2 separate regions of the Homo sapiens genome follow, and region 2 is linked to region 1. Evidence: fine-mapped expression QTL. A gene starts in region 1. The other region holds a variant in brackets. All regions are shown on one strand. Distances are between the middles of the regions. Region 1 holds the start of MTMR6 (myotubularin related protein 6). Region 2 overlaps MTMR6 (myotubularin related protein 6).

Evidence for each region. PIP is the estimated chance that this variant, and not a neighbour inherited with it, causes the effect.
Region 2: its variant is the best candidate, but not a certain one, in a credible set for the expression of MTMR6 in thyroid (GTEx, PIP 0.80).

The regions. Positions count from the first base shown.
Region 1 is chr13:25,281,696-25,293,118 of GRCh38, forward strand. It overlaps MTMR6 (myotubularin related protein 6), which reads right to left and starts at 5,793. Exons shown (of 14, transcript NM_004685.5): 1 at 5,529-5,793. The coding sequence starts at 5,552. RefSeq lists enhancers at 5,173-5,793, 5,497-5,836, 5,937-6,106.
Region 2 is chr13:25,262,172-25,273,594 of GRCh38, forward strand. MTMR6 (myotubularin related protein 6) reads right to left here. Exons shown (of 14, transcript NM_004685.5): 3 at 5,608-5,770; 4 at 3,958-4,115; 5 at 3,648-3,776. Among named protein-coding and RNA genes, the nearest start is that of MTMR6, 20 kb to the right of the region's middle. The variant T/A (reference allele first, on the strand shown) is at 4,912.

The DNA.
Region 1 (11,423 bases):
AGGCACTCATCTAGGACTCTCAGAATCATTTCACACTGACATCCTGCCAAGAATTAGCTTTCAAAAAGAAAGCACATCAAGTTGTGTGCAGGAAGTGGAGGGCAGAGATTATGGTTTCTGTTCATGTATCCCAATTTCTAGAACAGTGTCTGGCTGCATAAATTATCAAATGAAACAGTCATGGACCTCAAGAGGGGAGAGAGTAACCTCAGATCGTAAATCCAGTGGGCACTTTTCAGTTTTTTCTTACTTTGCTTATTCCATCAATGGCTTCCTATCTCACTCAAAAAAAGCAAAGATTTTACAGTGGCCTTCAAGACTACAGTAACTTGCCCCTGTCCCCCAACTTTAATCTTCTACTGTGCTCTTCTTCACTCACCCTGCTCTAGCTGTCTTGCTTGTTCTTAGCAACCAGGCATGCCCTCAAAGGGTTTTTGCCCCTGTTGTTCCCTTTGTTGGGACTCTCCCCGCCATCCCCCATGTGGGGATGGCTTACTCCCTCACCAGTTTCAGGTTTATACTCAAGAGTCACCTTCTCTGTAAGAGCTTCCCTAACCACTCAATTTATAGCAGTCCTCCCTTAAACCCCCTCCTCAACCCTCATACTCTTCAGAGCCCTGGCTTGCTTTATTTTTATCCACAGCATTTACCACCATCTAACATACAATACATTGAACTTAATTTTGTTTATTGTTACCTCTTCTCCAACTAGATAAGTTATAAGGGCAGGAGTTTTTGTCTGAACCTAGAACAGTGCCTGGCCCAAGGAGGAGGAAGCAGCCAGAGGATGGAGCAGAGAAGGAAATTAGAACACGGAAGACTGTCACCTTCCCATCTGTGCTTCACCTCTTCCAAATGCATCCGGCTTCTCCTCCTCTGCTTGCTCGCCCTCTTCTTTTTTCTTTTTTCTTTTTTCTTTTTTTTTTTTTGAGACAGAGTGCTGCTCTGTGACCCAGGCTGGATGCCGTGGCACGATCTCGGCTCACTGCAATCTCCATCTTCTGGGTTCAAGTGATTATCATGCCTCAGCCACCCAAGTAGCTGGGATTACAGGTGCCCGCCACCATGCCCAGCTAATTTTTTGTATTTTTAGTAAGACAGGGTTTCACCATGTTGGCCAGGCTGGTTTCAAACTCCTGACCTCAAGTGATCCTACTGCCTCGACCTCCCAAAGTGCTAGGATTACAGGTGTGAACCACCATGCCCGGCCTGCTTGTCCCTTTTTAAGTGTTTAGACTTTTCTCCACAGAGTCTCAACATATTCTCCTTGCATAAACTCATTCACAATAGAAATTTCAATGATTTACCTAAACACAAACAACTCCCTCCCAAATCTACTCAAGGCCAGACCTTTTCCCTCACACTAGATCCTCACATTCAGCTAGCTACTAGAAAAAAATCTGACCACCTAAGCTTCTTCTATCCACCCCTCCTCTCTGTTCTTACTCACACTGCCCCAACTGACTAATCAAATCTCTTGATTAGATTATTATTCTGTGAGGCAAGAGAGTGTGGTTAAGAGAATAGGCTTGCTATCAGAAAGACCTACATTCAAGTTCCCACCTCCACCTCTTCTTTGGTAGAACTAACTGTGTGAGCCAGGACAAGTTATTTTATTAATTCTCTCAGGGTTTCAGTTTCCTCACCTGTAAAATGGGATAGTATTAGTGAAAATCAAAACAACACTTTACTTGGAAAAAAGCATTCAGGTGCTCCTCAAAACCTATTGGCTTTTATTTCAAAGACAATTTAAATAATATCAGTTTCTCCTTATTCTTGATCCATTCTTATTTTTATATCTCCTTTCTTCTTTCAGAGGGAAGGTATATTTGTATACATACATAGATGATCTCACATTCTAATGACAAAAAGAGGGAGCAAGCTAAAGAACATGTTAGGCATAACTTTTGGAATAACTCAATTTGGGCCTTAGTAGGATCAGATTTTTATGGGACATTCCATTTGATTACAAACGCTAGCAATCAGCCTTTCATTTATAGCTTAAAAAAGGTTCTTCCATTCCATTCAGTAAAGTTCCATTCACAGGTAAGACAATATCATTTGACATCAATATATAATGTCAGCCAAAGTACTGGCAGGGAAAGGAGAAAGACTGCATAAAGAACTGTCTCTGCATATTTCTCATTGTTTCTTGGCAGGACTATGTCATTATGGCAAAATGAGAGCTCAAAGCGATAGGTAGTAGCTGCATGATTCATAAGTGTAGCTTGGAAATGCTCTTTCAGAAATCCAGATTCAGGGACTTGGCATCTTTGATGCTATACAGTTAGTAAACCAAATGTGACCAAAACAGAATGATAAATATGTTCATTAGTATTCAGCTAAAATACTTAATCTGATAAATCTCTGGTTAGCAAGCAATAATGATCCTAAATATTATTTAAAAACAATACCGCATAAATATTATTTATTTATGACAAAAAGAGGTTTGGGGGGGAAGCTCTTAGAATTATCATCAGCATTTATTTCTGAATTAATACTAATGCACATTTAACAATTAGATTAAAACTAGAGAGGCACTGGAAAGAGCATACATAGTCTTTGGAGTTAAACACACCTTAGTTTAAATACTAATTCTATCTCTTGTGAACTAATTGAGCAGGTTACTTAAATTCTCTAAGCCTATTTCCTCCTCACCTATAAATGGAGATAATACTACCCAACTGACAGGGTTATTTAAGAGATCAGTGATGATAATGTATAAATTAACAGATTTATACAATTGTACATATTATAAAGTAATAATATTGTATAATTGGCTATATTGACATATAGTTGCTCAATAAATGGTAATTATTACTTTTCAAATAGAGCTGACTGAACAACAAAAATCACTAAATAGTCATAAAGGACACTCTACGGTCAATTTTGATCCTAATGACTAAACTACATAGAGGTCAAAACAGCTAATAAATCTAAAACAATCCACTTTTGCTTTTTAAATACTTACACTTATTTTTGCAGCAAACTAACTAAATCCAGGTGAAGGCTATGCATAATGGAAACAAAAGTTTGGCTATGTTCAAACCAATCTTTTAAAAGTAAGTTATTTCCCAATACATTAATAATTTAAGAACATGTTACAGTCCCCACAACAATTAACAGAATGTACCCTGAGGTCCACCTCTATCTTGCTGTTATATACCCAGTGTCAATACAGTGTCTGGCACATACTAGGTACCTAGAAAATATTTATTTGCGGTCTACATACACTCACTTAATATTACTCCAGAGTAGTGATCCAATACTAGAAAAACAACCCAAAGTAATAAAGGAGCATATTTGAAAAGTAGTTTTAATAGACAATTCATCAGAAATTTCTTAGTCTCTAAAAAGGCCTTATTAAACCACTAGCATGAGACCACTGTGTAAAGATAAGTCAAAATCAGAGCATTACTTGAAGAAAAGTTCATCAGTTGGTAGATAAGGAGGAATATCAGACAAAATGAAAGTCACCAGTGACAACTTTCAAAGAGCTAATAAGAGGGGCTACAACTCTACAAATAAAAACAAAGATATATATTCATAATAAATTGAATGAGGAAAGATTTAAAATAACCAAGGGATCCTAAATATTTTCCAAGTCTGTTCACTCTTATCATCCACCTAAGAATAGGATTTGCTCTAGTTGATCAGATTCAGTTTACTTTTACTGATTTTTTATTCTTTTCCGCCCCCCCCCCCCCAATTATGTCACCCAGGCTGGAGGGCAATGGCGCAATCTTGGCTCACTGCAACCTCCACTTCGTGGGCTCAAGCCATCCTCCCATCTCAGCCTCCCGAGTAGCTGGGACTACAGGTACATACCACCCCACCCGGCTTTCTTTTTTTTTTTTGAGACTGAGTCCCGCTCTATTGCCCAGGCTGGAGTGCACTGGTGCCATCTTGGCTCACTGCAATCTCCACTTCCCCGGTTGAAGCAATTCTCCTGCCTCAGCCTCTGAGTAGCTGGGATTACAGGCGCCTGCCACCATGCCCGGCTAATTTTTGTATTTTTAGTAGATATGGGGTTTTGCCAGGTTGTCCAGGCTGGTCTCGAACTCCTTACCTCAAGTGATCCGCCCACCTCGGCCTCCCACAGTGCTGGGATTACAGGCGTGAGCCACCGTGCCCAGCCTTTTACCGGTTTTCGATTGTGTGCTATGCACCGTAGAAAGCATATGAAAAATAGAGGAGCTTCGAACTGATGCAGAAGGAAGTCACGTGCACTTAGCTACTACATAATACATATCTGGAACCAATACAAGAACCTGATCCAATGTCCACTCTAGTCCTCTTTTCCTCTGTGCACCTTCTACGAGTTTGGTTATAGACTTAAGCACCCTTCCATTTTCAAAATTTAAGTACCCACAACTTGAATTCTCAAGTTATTTTATCTTTCTTCTCTTAAAAAAAAATGTTAAGGGGTTAGTTTTCAGAATCTTCAATTTTACTAGATACGGTATGCACAATGTTAAAGACAAGCTCCAATAAAAATTTATGTATACCTTTAAAAGGTTTGTGAAACATTTAAAAAATTTTTAAAAACACAAATTCTTCTTGGAACAATGAAGATAACGAACATCTGTGGTTCCCTAAATGAGCCGTAATTTTAAGATGGGCAGCAACTAAAGGGCTTCAGCTTTGCCAAAACGTCAAGAGGCTGCCTTGCAGTGGGCTCGCAGTGATTTTAAAATGTTATTCTTCTCGTCTCGATTTATGTTTTTCTCCCTCTCAAAGTTAAACTTAAATGTCGTTGGAAACGTAATTTGGTAACATTCTGATGTCATTTCCTTCCGTTTTTAAATTTGTAACGAAATAAAAATATTTGTTCGTTCTCAAAATGAAGGTCTTCCACACACAAAAATTAAGCATGGAGTGCAATAAGGTCAATCGAATAAAGCTGCATCCGACCTTTTAAAATATGGAATAACATTTTTCCCTTCTCCAGAACTCTTGACTACTGACACAGGACAATGCCTGAAGTATGAAGCACAGACACGGAAACACCGGATGCGAAAGACTGGAGACCGAGACAGCAAAGGGAGGTGGAGCGGAGTGCTGATCTCGGTTCCTCCAAAACTCGTACTGTGAATCTGTGACACGGGACAATGAAATGTGAGCAAGGACAAGCTTACACAGCATCATAATGTTAATTTGAAGACGGTTTTCCGGTTGATGAGGCAACGAAAGGCTGAAAGACTCCAAAGTTAAAGGAGCCCCAATTTTGCCCGAGAAAACGTAGAGCTAGGAGGGCGGTGACCAGTTTTCCCAGACTTATCTCTACGCACTCCAAGATGCTGAAAGTGGGACCCCTGCTCCTGTAGGTACAGGAGGCCTCTGCACCCCGCTTGGCCCAAGCTAACCCTGCCCTCCCAGACCAGGCCTGGCCAGACCCTCCCGCCCCGGGCCGGGTCTCCGCCGGGCCGGCTCCCAGCCCCAGTCAGGCCAGCAGAGCCTTCGTCTCCTCCTGCCTCAGCCGGGTCAGAGCAGGGCCCCTGAAGACTGGCGATCCCGCGCCCGACTACCTTGGTCGTCCGGATATGCTCCATCGCAAGGAGACGTCAGCCGGCAGCCGGTCTCACAGGCGTACCATACGGCTACAGAAACAGGGCGGTGACAGCGACAGAGAGCAAGCGGGAACTCCCTCCACCAGCCAGCGCCGCGGGTCTGTCTGCCGGCCCCGGTGGCGTCAACGGCGCAGGTGCAGCCGGTGAGCGCCGTCTCCTAGAAACACTTCCCCAAACCCCGCGGCCTCCCGGGGGACTCGGGGCAGGCAGACAGAGCGTGTGTGGACCGAGAGCGGCTTGCTGGTTCGTCCCGGACAGCGGCGGATCCCACAGCGCCCCCTGCTGGAGGAGGCCGGTACTGCTCACCACCCCACCCGAGGCGGTCTTTGTCATCCCGCCGAGCGGACGCGCGGGGCGGTCGGGGAGGAAGACTGCGTGAGAATGGATCCCGAGTAAAGGGTTCTTGTGGGGTGAGGGCAAGAGTGGAGGATGTTCTGAAGTCCATCGCCATACCACTGGACAGCACCAAATTTAGTTTGAGCTGCAGTTCTACTCATAAGAATGTATTCTAAGGAAATAATCAGATTTGGAGTTATTATTCTAAGGAAATAACCAAATAAGGAAACCAGCCTTATTTGAAACAATCAACTCTCCAATCCTACGGATTCCTTATGTAAAGTATGATGATTAGCTAGTCCTCAATCTGGTCTGGTGTCAGAGTCCCGCCTCCTACCTCAATTTCATACGATGTTAGCACCAGCATCCATTAAAACTCATCCTGTAGAGGGATATCACATAACGAAAATGTTAATGCTGCATTACTGAGTGAAGAAAAAACTGACTATGGAACAATAAGTTCAATGTAGCCGTGCTCTGTAATTTTTATTTATGTAAACAAAAAGTTTACATTTCTAGGTGAGGGTTACAGGTAATTTTTGTTAGAACACGTCTAATGTGGTACTTCTCAGCCTGGAGTGAGTTTTCTCCCCGGGGGACATTTGGTAACATCTGGAGATATTTTTGGTTGTCTCAAATGGTGGTGGTGGGGGGGTGGCGGCGGGGGGCAACTGGTGGGTGGAGGCCAAGTCACAAGTCGGCTGCTGAACACCCTACTAGGCACCAGACCAACCCCCCAACTACAGGGAATTATCCGGCAGATGACAACAGTGCAGAGGTTGAGAAACCCTGCTCTATGCCAGGCGCGGTGGTTCACGCCTGTAATCCCAGAACTTTGGGAGGCTGAGGCGGGCGGATCACTTGAGGTCAGGAGTTAGAGTCCGAGAAACTCTGCTCTACGTTTTGTAAGTATTCTGTACTAAGCCGGTTAAGGTTTGTAATCTTCATCTTTCATACTGTGATTGGTGTTAGAAAAGCCTAACATCTAAATTTTCTTTTATAATTAAAAATTTTGTTTCACTTATTTGTTTCATTTTGTTCAAGTTGTCTTGGTTTGTTTTGTTTTGAGTGCCTACGATGTTTCAGACAGATTGCCAAAGCAATGGAGATGGTTATTAAACACAACAGCCTTTGCGGTGGAGTTGCTGACTCCTCTAAGCTAAATATGTAATAAGAGTTACATTAAACCACCTAGAAACCAACCTTAGTACAGTATCACATCCACCCCCTCCCCCCGAAAAAAAACCCCACAAATCCTGCTCAGAAAAAAAAAAAAATATATATATATATATATATACACATATATATATATATATATATACATATATATATATATACACATATATATATATATAGAGAGAGAGAAAAGTAATGTAGGTCTTTACTGAGGATTGCTTTTTGAGAAAACAGAAAGAGGTGAATTGTATAGCATACAGCAAGACTTTCTTAACAAAACTTTTTATATCATTTTCCTCCCAATTTACAACTTCCTCCTTCCCCATTCCCCTACAGATTATCCTCCCTCTTCTCATCTCCTCACTTCCTGTGTCCTCTCTTTACCAATTCTCACAGAGAGGCAATCATAATGATGTCAGGTGACCAAATGTACTGAGTGCTTTACGGGTATTCTGAGGAAAATGCTATTGCTTTCTTTATTTTAGAGATGAGACAAGCGAGACACAATGAAGTGAAGTAACTTGCCCAATATCACATAGCAGATAAAGCCAAGATCCATGTTATAAAGCCAGACAGGCTGACTTCAGAGTCTGTATTCTTAACAACTGTTTTACATTGATTTGCTTCTCAAAATCCATATTAAAGTTCTATTTATGTTAATATGATAGGCTAGAAAATTACCTAGCTTTACAGAAAGAAAGTAAAATAACAGATAAAATATTAAATGACGTTTCTTTGACTCTTGAGTTGAATACTCTTGCACTAGATAGAATATTCCTTATGGTTAAATCTGGCAATCACTCAGTTCCATTATCTTTCCTCGAGACATCTCTTTAGAGGTCTCCAGATGCTTCTAGGAGCCTTTTCTCCTTTTGCTCCAGTTTGCACTTGTGTTCTCTGAGCCTACTGAATGGATATTATCCTGGGACTCTCCTCACCATGGGCCTGAGAAATGTGTTGGTTACTTGTGCTGAATTTTTAGATCCTGTGGTTTATCTTTCTTGATTTACTTACTTGCATTGTTTTATTCTGATGTAGTATATTCTGTATTAACTTCCTGAGAAAGGGTGAATGGAGCATAAATCCTTGACGGGAAGTTTGGCTAGGTCTAGAATTCTGTAATTTTAATTAGGATTTTGAAAGCTCCCAGAGACATATCCTGACTTTCAATGCAGTTGTTCAGAAATCCGCTGGCATTCCGATTTCCCTTTAGGTGTCGCTTCTACTTTCTCAGGATGCTTTTTGGATCTCTTTATCTCCAATGGTCTAAAATTTCAACATAATAAAACTTAGCTTTCTTGTTTATTTTTCTGCCCAGTGTTTTGAGCTCTGTAATCTGAAAACATAAGTCCTTCAATTCTGGGACATTTTCTTGTATTATTTCTGTAATAATTACTGTTTCGTTCTTTTTCCTTCTTCCTTTTTCTTTTTTCCCTTTAAAAATTTTTTTTATTCTTCTCACCTCTCTTCTCTCCCTCATCTTTCTTCTTTCCTATTTCCCTCCTGTCCTTTCTCCTTTCTTTTTATTTTGTTTTATTTTTATTTATTTATTTTTGAGACAGGGTCTCACTGTGTCACTGAGGTTGGAGTGCAGTGGCACAATCTCAGCTCACTACAGCCTCAACCCCTCAGGTTCAAGCAATCTTCCCACCTCAACCTCCTGAGTAACTGGGACTACAGGCGTGCACCACCAAGCCTGACTAATTTTTGTATTTTTTGTAGAGACGGGTTTTTTCCATGTTGCCCATGCTGGTCTCAAACTCTCGGGCTCAAGTGATCTGCCTGCCTCAGCCTCCCAAAGTGCTGGAATTACAGATGTGAGCCACTGTGCCCAGCCCCTTTCTTTTTTCAGTAGAAATTCCTGGTCTGACTTCCTAATTTTACTATTCTTTCACTCCTATTTTTTAAGAATTTACCTTTCTAATCTACTCTCTAGGAAATTCTTAATACTTCATTGTTTCTAATATTTTTAGAATACTCCATTATTTCTAATATTTTTAATTGCTGCAATTATATATATGTACATGTGTGTATGTATGTGTATGTATATATATATACACACATATACATGCACATACATATATAATTGTAGACAAACCTTGTGCTCAGATCTTGGATTCTTCTTTTTCTTCCTTTTTTGTCTACTGAGCACAAGGTTTGCCTCCCAAAGTGCTGGGATTACAGGCATGAGCCACTGTGCCTGGCTTATATTTTTAATTTCTAAGTGTTTTCACTTTAAATAGACTTTATTTTTATTTATTTATTTATTTTTTAGAGATGAGGTCTCGCTATATTGCCCAGGCTGGAGTGCAGTGGCTGTTCATAGGTGTGATCATAGTGCACTACAGCCTCAAACTCCTGGGCTCAAGCAACCTTCCTGTCTCAGCCTTCTGAGTAGCTGGGAATACAGGTATGCTATACCACAAGATGCTCCAGGCTCATCTTGCATCTTTCCCACCCCAGCCCTAGAATCATCCATTTCCCCAAGGAGCCCTGGTTCCTTTTATTGGAAAATGTTATTAGAATCCAAGATCTGTTCTGAACCCAAGATGACCTAACTGGAAAAAAAAAGAATCCAAAATCTGAGCACAAGGTTTGTCTACTAGAATGTTATTGTTTCTAAGTGAAGAGATCTTTTTGGTTACATACATTTTCCTATTTTTCTTTGTTTTTCAGTTTGTTCATTTATTTGTTTTCTAGCCTCCTGCTCTGATACATGTAAGAGCTCATCTCTCCTAGGTGAATAATAGTTTTCATTTATTTATGTATTTCTTGTAATTTTTGCTTCCTGAACCCTATTCCTTTTAGGTTCTCTCTACGTTTGCTGTTTTGGTCTCTGACTTTGATGTCAGAAGCGATCCTCCAATATCTAATCATCTTTAATGGTCCTTTCCAGCAATAAAATGCTGATTGGAAACTTACTCTTTATAGGAGAATTTGCCTATTGTTAAGCTTCATTATTGAATGATGGGGTAGGGGCTTGGTACTTTTGTTGGGGGTCCCTACATCATTATTTGAAGACCCTGTGCATGTGAAAGGCACAGGGAGCTCTGGGAACAGATGTCCTGTTAGCAGCAGTAGCTGAGTAGAAGCCCCAGTCAGGTACCATATATAGGATCCAGATGATCCAGGCCATCTGCCTCTCTGTTGCCAGCTCTCCCCTTGGTGATTACTGCAAGGAACAAAGAGACCCATTTCCCCTCAATACAAGGGGTGGGAAATGAAGAGACATTGGAAAGAGAAGAGGTTCATTCACTAATATTTGTTTTATTGTTAGTAATATTTATAAAGCACACGATCCAGTTTCAGAGGATTCAATATGCACCTGTGTTCCTACATTCCTATCCTTCCCTTTAAAAATGTTGACATACAATAAAATTCATCAGATTAAGCATTTTCTGCTGCCTGATCTCATCAATTATGCCAAGAGCACACTTAATACTGTTACAATTCAATTGAGTAGTCCACTGCAACTTACAAACTAATCTGAAGGAAGATAATCAGGAAGAGACTTGTTTTTAGGGTTAGTTAGACTGGTGAATATCAAAATACCAGTGTAATCATTGACCACAAGAAAGCAGATGGGAATGAAAGTCAGCATGTTCTCTTCCTATAAAGCGTGGGGGGAGGTCACATTACAGTTGAGAAGATTGCTTAGTTAGCATGAATTCAGAGCAGGGGAAACTAGCTGCATGATAGGAGAGGCTGTTGCCATTCAGCAAAGATCTTGATGCATCAGCCAGCCTATCAGGATGTACCAACCACAAGAAAAGGCAGGAGGGGCTCTGGGCCAGGCAAGCCTCTGGAGGCAGCCCTGAAGATTCATTATTTGAGGGAAATATTAGATTTCCCTAAACTAGGCCTCATTATTGAACAATCCTCCCTCTAAGGGCCCTATTCTGCCTTTAGATATGCCATTTCATCTGCTAGGTTCATATCAAGATGTGGTATAGAAGCTATGCTGTCTTTTTAAGGAGACATATCTGTAACTTAATTAATTTTGTTTTAATGTATATATTTATAATTTCCTTTATCATCCAACTTCTAGGAGACATCAGGTTTTTTCTTACATGTGCCTACAAAAACAACTTAAAATAGTGACATGACTAATATTTGATGATTTTAAGAAAATATCATTTTCTTAATTGACTTTGCAATTAAAGACGGAGTTTTTTTGCACAAAAAATTGAAAGTTAAAATTCACAAAAAGCATGAAAGAAACTACTATTACGGTTTGAAATAATGAGGAATCAGATTTTTTTTTTTTTTGAGACAGAGTCTCACTCTGTTGCCCAGGCTGGAGTGCAGTGGCGCCATCTCAGCTCACCGTAAGCTCTGCCC
Region 2 (11,423 bases), 20 kb before region 1:
CAAGAATTTTTAAGTAGCAACACTGGAACTTTTACTTTCTAAAGGTTTTAAGATCTCTAATTAGAAATCGGCAATCTTAATATAAAATGAGAAAAATGACCTTCAATTCAAATTTGAGTTAAAATACAGTCAATCGAATAGAGCAAGAATTATCTATAAGTAGTGAGTGGTTGGATTCATTATTTACTGTTTTTTGTTTGGCTGGTTGGTTTTTGAGACAAGGTCTTGCTCTGTCACCCAGTTTGGAATGCAGTGGCGTGATCACAGCTCATTGCAGCCTTGACCTCCTGGGCTCAAGCAATCCTTCCAACTCAGCCTCCAGGGTAGCTGGGACTACAGGAACACACCACCACGCCTGACTAATTTTTGTATTTTTTGTTAAGATGGGTTTTTGCCATGTTGCCCAGGCTGGTTGTCAACTCCTGGGCTCAAGCGATCTGCCCACCTCACCTCCCAGCATGCTGGGATTACAGGCATAAGCCATCATGCCCAGCCTACTATTGTTTAAAGTCCTAAAAAAAGATTTAAAAGATTTAGATCCATATACTTTTTCTCCAATGGAAAACAAAAATACATGCAAATTCACACAATTGCATATTTTAAACTCACAAAATAAAACCACGAAAATATGATAAAACAGTAGAAAATGAACATTGCCTTATTAAATTCTTTTCAGACCTACTTTCTGATTTGTTAAGTTGTTCACAGAATAACTATTTTCAGCCCAACTTTCCAATAAACAATGTTTACACATATGGCTGTGTCAAGAGAGGCCATAACCATTTAACCTCTCTGTGATTTAGTTGTGAAAAGCAGATTAGAAACTTCTGTCTAAACCCTTACCCCTTTGCCTCTGCTCCTTCCCAAAATCCAAGTCAGGTTCGAATAAAGAAAGTTAAAATGCATAAAACCACAGGGACAAAGAGAATGGGAAAAAAGACATAGAGATGTCAATAAAATTTGGGGAGATGACAGCTGACTAGCAAGTGATAACCAATTTTACAGGACAAAGAAAGCTGCTAACTCCCTTAAGTCAGTAAGAAGCAAGGTATTTTGTGCAGCAAAATCTCAAAAGGCTCAAAACCTCTGAAGGCTTGAGCAGGTATATAACTGAAAAAAAGGAGAACTGCTTGAATGCCTGTACGAGAACTAGCTAAGACCACCAGATTCTCCCTTACCTTGAAGACAAAGTTTATTCCATGATAAGGATGAACCTGAAGACTCTATAGACAATAGACACAGCTGTGGGCAGGGGTGAAGCCCTATACTCACAAAGACTAGGAGCATTAAGTAAAGTCTACATAACAAAATGTGAAATCCTGACATCACTCTTCTCACCCTTGGATCATGGCCAGACTTACTATACACATTGGGACCAAAATTAGAGGTTTGTTCTTTAAGGAAACCAACTTATACAACAGAAAGAATCCCAAAGCCAGGCACGGTGGCTCACACCTGCAATCCCAGCACTTTGGGAGGCCGAGGCCGGTGGATCACCTGAGGTCAGGAGTTCGAAACCATCCTGGCCAAATGGTGAAACCCAATCTCTACTAAAAATATAAAAATTAGCCAGGCATGGTGGCACATGCCTGTAATCCCAGCTACTTGGGAGTCTGAGGCAGGAGAATCACTGGAACCCAGGAGGCGGAGGTTGCAGTGAGCCGAGATTGTGCCACTGCACTCCAGCCTGGGAAACAAAGCGAGACCTTGTCTCAAAGAAGAAAAAAGAAAAAAGAAAACAAAGAAAGAATCCCAAGATACAAACCATTCCTGCACACAAACTTCAAAACAGCTTGAATATGAGAACTCAGCCAAGAAACAGGTATTTGAAAGACATGAAAGACAAAAACACTAAATAAATAGAAAAAAATGGAACTCTGAGCAAAACAATAACTAATGTGGGAAGCATGAGAATTATTTTTTTAAATCTTTAACATCCTCAAAGAACTAAAACATCACATCCAGGAATAGAAAACCATCTTTAAAAATTTCAGAAAATAGGAAAAGCTCTCAGATATTAAAAACACCACAGCAAAAAAAGGATCTAAGACACAGACTGGAGATGAGGTTGAGGAAATCTTCCAGAAAATCCAAAAAAAAAAATGAAAAATAAAGGAGAAAGTTTTTAAAAAAGTAGAAGTTTATTCTACAAAGCCCAATTGTCAACTAATAAATAAAAAGGACAAAGAAAATTAATAGAACAGAGGAAATTATCAAAGAAATAGAGAAGCAAATTCCCAAAATTGAGACCTGAGTTTCTGGATGAGATTTAAAAGGACATTACTGTGAAATTTCAGAACAAGCAGGGCGCAGTGGCTCACACCTGTAATCTTAGCACTTTGGGAGGCCGAGGCGGGTGGATCACTTGACGTCAGGAGTTCAAGACCAGACTAGCCAACACGGTAAAACCCTGTCTCTACTAGAAATACAAAAATTGGCTGGGCATGGTGGCAGGCGCCTGTAGTCCCAGCTACTCAGGAGGCTGGGGCAGGAGAATCGCTTGAACCCGGGAGGTGGAGGTTGCTGTGAGCCGAGATCACGCCATTGAACTCCAGCCTGGGCAACAAGAGAAACTCCATCTCAAAAAAAAAAAAAAAAAAAAAAGAAATTTCAGAACACTGGGGAAAAAGAGGATTCTAAAAGTTCTCAGAGAAAACAAAATCAGGTCCCAAAGGACTGGGAGTCAGAAATGGCACAGAATTCCTCAACTTACTTGCTGTGAGACAAGGAAGTAATTTACCCTCTTTGAATGTCAGTTTCCCCACTTGAAAGTTACAGGTAATTAGTAAAGCCTACCTTACAAAGTTAGGAAGACATACATGTAAACCATTTAACATACAGTACCTCTTGGCCTTCTATTAGTAGGCTACAAAGGTAAGTTTTACTAATATAAGCAACCCTTATTACAGCATCTCACTATAAAGATGCCTCCTCCACTGTTTCATGTTGCAAAATCCTTTTGATTTGAGCTTACTATTAAAATGGGACCCTGAAATGCCCTTGGTTCTCTCCCTTGTCTCAGCGGTTGTCTTATCAAAACTATCTGGTTTTCCCAAACACAAGCAGAATCAAAAGAGAACCACAGGAAAGAAAGAGGATCCTATCTGTTAACTAATTCTATTATTTTCAAGTCACTGCTGGAAGGAAGGGAGGGTCAAGAAAAGATGACAAGAAGTATGAAAATTTCTGTATTTGAGTAGTTTTGTTTTAAATTTGCAAAAACGTAATTAAACAAAAAGCCAGTGCTTCTCCATTAGCAATCTTTTAATGTAAAAAATAGTGTTCTTGATCCAGGCACAGTGGCTCACACCTGTAATCCCAGTATTTTGGGAGGTTAAGGCAGGTGGATCACTTGAGGTCAGGAGTTCAAGACCAGCCTGGTCAACGTGGCAAAACCTCGTCTCTACTAAAATTAGCCAGGCATGGTGGCACGCGCCTGCAGTCCCAGGTGCTCGGGAGGCTGAGGCACAAGAACTGCTTGAACCGAGAGGTGGAGGTTGCAGTGAGCCAAGATGGTGCCACTGCACTCCAGCTTCGGCAACAGAGCGAGACCCTATCTCAAAAAAAAAAAAAAAGTGTTATTTTAGATACTTAAACCTGAAGATGAGTTATACTTTATTTCTAAAATCAAAAGAAAAGCATCCTACCTCCTTATCTTGATGATAGTAGGAAAGAACTGGGAATCTTCCCTTGCTCCGGAACTTGGAACTACCAACAATTATTGGTTTGCTTGCTATCCGGGGAACATAAAGTTCTCTGGGGTAAGTTTCACAAATCTGTAAATATCAAACAAAACATAACCATTGTATTCTTAGTTCAAAACCACTTTAAAAACCTTTAAACCTTATTAAATGCAAGAACAGCACATTTCAGTACACAGACAACTTGCTACGCTGACACTCTCTAACCCTCTGGTACTAACACTTTCTGAATTTCTCCAAAATGTTGTTAAGGTACCTTGTAGTCCCGGTTGGCATCAGACAACTGCCAGTGTGAGTTTGGCACTCCCATCCTCTTATATTCCTCAGCGAGATCAATGAGCTGCCAGCCTTGTAGTCGTTCTGAATCATTTTGTTTGGGATTATAAGAAAATGCATAGAGATCTTCATATTTTGCTACAGAATACAAAATTTTAAATGTTAAGTGCAATTTATAAGACTTATACACTACAAATAAATGTAATTTTTCAGTTTTCTTCCTTCATTTTTCTCTTTACAATCTTCAAAGAGATGGCTAATACCTGAATACATTTGATGTTCAGTATGCAAATGATTATACCTAAAAAGCACACATATCAATCTGAGATTGGATTTGTCATCAACAAAAGTAAAGCTAATAAATACAGTCAGAATAGTTAGACTTACATGTTAAATCCTCTATTGCAGTATTTTTCTTAAAAGTAAAATGATAAAGACACTAATAGACATTTCCTACTAATCACTTTCCCAAATGAGATGTAAAATAGACTAATGTTATAATGAGAAGCTAGAGACAGATACAGAACATGAAACTGCATTATACATCCCTATAGGACACTGTTGACTAAAAATGGCAACTGTTGCACAGAACTCTTGGGGTGCTTCAGAATCATCCTTACTATAAACTCTGGCTTAATTTGAGACAATAGGATGTTACAGGCTGATGTGCTCAGAGAGAAGAATGAACAAAGACCTGCTCTGAGACCACTCTTGCAGGCAGCAATCCAGATTGCTCAACCAAAATCCAGTCCGACATATAATTCAAGTCATGTTTGGGGAAGGAAGTCACCAGATCCACAGGGCATAAGTAGCGATAAGATTCTTCTTTAGTGGCTCATGCCTGCAATCCCAACACTTTGGGAGGCCGAGGAGGGTGGATCACAAGGTCAGGAGTTCAAGACCAGCCTGGCCAAGATGGTGAAACCCCGTCTCT[T/A]CTAAAAATACAAAAATTAGCCGGGTGTGGTGGTGGCTGCCTGTAATCCCAGCTACTCAGGAAGCTGAGGCAGGGAACTGCTTGAACCTGGGAGGCGGAGGTTGCAGTGAGCTGAGATTGTGCCACTGCACTCCAGTCTGGGCGAGAGAGTAAGATTCCATCTCAAAAAAAAAAAAAAAAAAAGGTTCTTCTTTAGGACTGCTATCCCTCTCAACCTTACTTCTACTAAAATAGAATTCACCCTCTCTTGTTTCTCTGCTTATCTTCTGTATCTCCCACTCAAATCTATTAAATATTTTAGTCCCACTGCCACCAAAGGACCTTGACCTTCCTTTTATCATTCCGTAATATCAACTTCCAAGTCATTCTCTTTGATTGTGAAATACCCACTTAAAAAATACATTGTGCTACTTGCCATCAATAGACTTAAAAGATTAATATAAACCTGTGGTTTTGTAAGTCTCTACTATAAATGCTTTACTTTTTCCTTACCATTACCCCTTCTGATGACACCATTCTTATATCAGATCAATAGTTTCTAATTACTTTCAGGCCAATATGGGGGAGATAGAGTACAAAAGAACCTGACTGTCAGAGCAAAAAAGGATAAAATAACAATAATAAAACATTAAATAAAGTATCTTAGATAACCCATCTCAAATTGAGCATGTAAGCTTTGGTCTCTAAGAACAATACCTTGTTTTGACAGTTGTAGCAAAGAGTTGTAAATATCATGGCAATCTCTTTCTCTGGGAACAATGAAATGCACAGTTCTGAAGTTCTTGCACTGTATCACAAGGGGGCATCCAGAAGTAGTCAAAGCAAGTTTCTCTACTGAGGCAATATGGTGGTGTAATATCTACAGCATGAAAAAACATCCAGGTCATCAACATGGAAAGCACTAAATATTCTCTTCTAGAATGCATAAGTTTAAGAATGTCTTCCTCAAAAAAAGTTGAAAATGTTACATACTCACTCAAACTTCACGTTTTTAAAATGACTGAATGCCCAAGTCAGAAATATGGGTGTCACTCTGATCCCTCCTCCATCAGTCCACATACTCAAGACATTATCAGACCCTGGGAACTGCATCTCCTACATGTTTCTGTAACCCATCTACTTCTCTCTATCTCTACTGTCACATCCCTAGTTGTAATGTCCCCACTGTTTCTCACCTGAACTACTATAAACAAACAGCCTCCTAAATGCTCTCTCCATACCTACCCCTGACCCTCTGATCCATTTTCTACAACACAGTAGTGAACATTGAAAAGCAGATTAAGAAAAGGAAGGGAATCTAGTCATTTCCAGTCCCTCTCCCGATCACTGACTATGTTCTAGTGACAACAGCCTTCTTTTGGCTCCTCAAATGCACCGAGCTCCTTTACACATGGTCAGATGCTCCCACTAACTGGAATACTGTTAACACTACCTCTTCATCTAAGAACTTCTAGACACATTTCTGGTCTTTGCTCAAAACTCATAATAACACCAAAAGCGTAGCCTGACATGCCCCACAACCCTTTCCAAGTAAGTTAGGCCCCCTCCCTTTTCTTCCTGCAGATCAAGCTATACTTTTCCTTCACAGTGAAGGCCACTGTGAGGATGCCAGCTGCAGTGGGGGAGGTGCAGCCAGGGTTGCGCGCTCTGCAGAGCAGGCAAGACCTGGGAACAGGTGATCCCAGTGGAAGCCCCATACCCTACCGAGTTGGCAGGGCAGGAGCCACACTCCCGGGCACAGCTGCAGCCGCCCAGCCATGGCTCTGGACCCAGGCATCCCTGTGCTCTTGGGGGCCTAGGAAACCCCCTCCCCCTGCAGGTTCAGAAGTGCCTGCTCCCACTCCCTGGCCTCTCCCAACTCCCACTGCCTGTTCTGTGGTAGAGCAAAGTTGTGGACATGTCCCAATAGCCAAGCCCAGATACTGTCGTGATCTAGCTGGGTGTGCATGTGCTTGGGGCGGTACTGACACACCAGCCCCTAGCTGCCTTGGCCCCTCTGGAAACTGCTTCTGAGGCTGAAATTTTGGGTGCCCATGAGCACAGGAGGGAGGCTGAGGACCTTGGGGGTGGCATGGTGCAGAGTTGATCAACATTACATCTCCAGCACCTAACACAGTACCTGGAACATTATAATTGCCCTCCTCAAATCAAAAAGCTTGCAAATGTTATATATCACACACTTCAACTTTAATTTTTTAAATGTGAATGCCCAAGCCAGAAATATGGATGTCATCCCTGATACCTCCTTTATCACAATAAGAGTTTACTAAATGAATGAATAAAAAGTCCTACTATAAACTCAATACTTGATGGTATTTTAAACATATGCTTATTGTTCTCACCTACTACCAATAATATTTTGTTTGCTACTAAAAATGCCTACTTTTTCTTAATAACACTCCTATTAAAATATTTATAGAAAACTTTTCTGGAGAATAAAAGATCATAGGCTCCTAATCATGCAAGAGATCCATTTATCCCAAATTAATCTAAAAATTCAACATAAATTTCAGTTTAAAAATTCCAATCTGCTTTGTTTTGTAGTGAGGGATGATTATTTATATAATACACATATATTATGTAATTATTACATTATATGTTAATATTAATTATACATCTTAAATCTAAAGTTCACCTGCAAAATTAAATGCATTTAAATAATCAAGAAAAGCTTGAAAAACAATGAGAGAAGCAGTTGTCAATGGAAATTAAAACTACATAGAGAACAAATAATTAACACACACACACACATATATAGTCCTTACGGCTAAGATTTAGCACCATTATCACTTATATTAATGCGCCTGTGACAAGTTACTAAAAATGATCTAATAATAACATTTAAACAGAGAATAAGGAATAAAAGCTAACTGTAATATTACAAGTTGAGAACCCTTTATCCAAAATGTTTGGGACTAGAAGTATTTCAAATTTTGGATTTTTAAAGATTTTGGTATATTTGCATTATACTTATCAATTGACATCCCTAATCTGAAAATCTGAAATCTGAAATGCTCCAATGAGCATTTCCTTTGAACATCATGTCAGTGCTGAATTTTTGGATTGGGGATATTCAACCTGTACATCACTGTTCTGATTTTAATTATAAAAACCCAAAAGTATTTGCAGGAAGAAAATGATGAAGAAACCTGGTCCTACCACTAACTAGTTATGTGATTTTGAAAACATAATCAACTGTAAAGTGAGAAAAAGGATATAAGGTTGATACGGCCCCTTCTGGATCTAAAATGTTCATTTCTATGGCTCTAGTATATTAAACAAACTTCATTTAGGGCAAACATAAGGGAATATACTGATAAGAAAGCATTTAAAAGACAACAATAGGAGAGTAGAGAATAACACAGATATCTTTTTGTTGCCCCTCAAACTACATTCCCAGCAGCTGAGGGAATAGCTATACGGGAAGCCTTCATTTATATCTCTACGAGATGGATAATAGAGAAAATACTGAAGCAAGTGGACAAAGGAGGGGTAGATGGAGTGGATGATAATATGACTAATTATTTCAGAAGGTACTGCTAGGTAAAATTCCTGGCAATTCTTGGACAAACACTGGATGAAGAAGGGATCCAGTGCCTCTAGGGAATACAACTTCTCCAAGATCAGTATCTCAAGTGAGTTTCCTTAACAGCTGATATAGAATCATATATCAATTGGTTAGCCTTCTTGGGGAAATCAGAAGAGTACAATCAAAGAGAGAAAGAGAAGAGAACAGTATGACAGTATGTGCAGTACAGGGGTGTACCACAGAGCAACATCAATCTCTGGACTGGGAGGCATAATTGACCTCTAATCTTGATTCAACTGCTTAGAAAAATAGTATGAGCAGCTATGATTTACGCCACTACTATGTTTTACGCACAGATGTTTTTCATATTTTCTTTCATCTAAGACTCACAAAAGCCCTACATGATGACTGATGCTATATACCCATTTTATGTGGGTGCTAAGCTCGAAAGTTACATACTTTTTGGCAGACACTGTTGGTCTGCCATTCCTCCCCCCCTTCCTTACTTGCAACATCCTTTTCCCTCAAGAGATAAAAAATACTAGGATCTACATTCTCTGCCTCCTTTTCAGGTAGGAGTAGCCAAGTGTCCGGATTTTCAAACAATCAGATGTTAGGGAAAGTTAGCTGGGGGCCTTCTGAGAGAGCTTCTCCTCCCTGATAAGCAATGGGGCTACTGAGGAAAGCCTACCCACCTCTCCTGCTTTGCAAGGTTTGGCACCATGTTCAGTCAGGTATTCATTTACTTACAGCCAAAAGCACCCTGACATAGTCACCCAAGCAGTGAACAGCAGAGCTGACATTTGAACCCAAAGCTACCTGACAACACAGTCTACGTGAGCTCATTTTACTACTCTACACTGCCTGTGTAACAATGAATGAATTGCCACTTGCCTGAGCTTCAGCTTCTTCATCTATAAAGTGGAGGTTCTAAAAGCTGGCAGAGCTAGTGGCACAGAAACATGCCCAAGTCTCTTCCTCTCAGGCACAGAGACACAAGCCCCATATTCTAACCACCTTTCCTACTTCTTTTTCTGCTTAGCACTTATCACTATGTATTTTACTTATCTACCTACTTATTGGTGATGTTATCAATATCTTTCAGCACTAGAATGTTGGCTCCATGAGGATAGAATTTGTACCTGTTATTATTGGCTATTGTTTCCAAAATATCTAGAATAGTGATATGAAACACACTGTATATGCTCAATAAATGTGTGCTAAATGAATTCTAAAACAGAAAAGGAAGAACAAAGAATCCAAAATAGCCATGGCAATTTTGAAGAACAAGTTGGGAGGGTATGCTCTACTTGATATCAAAATTTATTTAAAAGCTATAGTCAATAAAACAGTGTGGTACAGTGTAGTCAGTATACCAAACGAATAGAAAAGAAAACTCAAAAGCAGAGCCTCACATACATGGAAGATGTTTTTATGACAGAGCTGGTACTAAAGACGAATGGAATGAAACAGTCAATAAATGGCGCCGGTCGTCTATACGAAAACATAAAAATGAATCCCTAGTCACATCATACACCAAAATATTTCCCAGATGTATTAACAACTTACAGGATCAAACTTAAGCTTTTAGAAGAAAATATAGAAGAACCTTTATGACTTTGACATAGGAAAGGATTTCTTAAGTCACAACAGAGCACAAACAATAAAAGAAAAAAATGAAAAATCTATAACATTAAAAATATAAACTTCAACTGAAAGACATATAAAATAAAAAACAGAGAAGACAAGCCACACACTGGGAAAAGCTATCTATGACACACACATCTGACAAAGCATTATAACCTAGAACTCTTTATTTGTTTTCTTGAATAATACTTTTTTTTTTAATTCAGTGGGTACATGTGCAGGTTTGTAATATGAATATACTGAATGATTCTGAGGTTTGAGCTTTGACTGAACCCATAGCCCAGACAGTGAACACAGTACCCAAGAGGTAGTTTTTCAACCCTTGTTCCTCTACTTCCCTCCCTCCCACCTCTATTAGTCTATTAATGTCTATTGTTCCCATCTTTGTGCTCGTATGTACCCAATGTTAAGCTCCCACTTATAAGTGAGAACACGCAGTATACGGTTTTTTGTTTGTGTTAATTCATTTAGAATAATGGCTTCCACCTGCATCCATGTTGCTGTAAAGGCCATGATTTTGTTCTCTTTTTATGGCTGTGGTGAATATGCACCACTTTTTCTTTATCCAATCCACTGCTAATGGGCACCTAGGTTGATTCCATAGCTTTGCTATTGTGAACAGCGCTGCAACAAACATGCAAATGCCCGTGTCTTTTTGGTTGATTTATTTTCCTTTGAGTATATATCCAGTAAAAGGATTGCTGGGTTGAATGGTAATTCTATTTGTAGCCCAGAACTTTTATAAAATCAATAAAAGACAAACAACCCAATAAAAAAAGAAAAGGAAACTCTTTCCTTTTTCTTTATCTGAAAAGGGTAAATTCTTTATAATCAGCTCATTAACATTACAATTGGACATCTACTAGATAGGCAAAAAATTTTAAATTGACAATATCAATGTTGTTGAGGATGTACAACATTGTGTAATACACTACTGAGAATAAATTGGAACAACCATTTTGAAGAGGTGACATACTTAGTAAGGTTATATATGCACTTATTCAAGACCCAATAATTTTACTCCCAGACAAATATCCCAGAGAAACTCTGGCAAATATACAGAAAGAAACATATACATATGTCTCATATAAATACACAAAATGTTGTTTACATGTATATGTACATTGCAACATTTATACTAGCAAAAAAAATAAGTACCCTAATTAAAATTTGTATAAAAACACTGTGGAATATACCAAACAATCCGTTTGATCTGTTAATGTGTACATATTTTTTAGATTTTTAAAAATTAAAAGGAACAATAGGATTTTTTTTTTTTTTTTTTGAGACAGAGTCTCACACTGTCACCCAGGCTGGAGTGCAATGGCGCGATCTC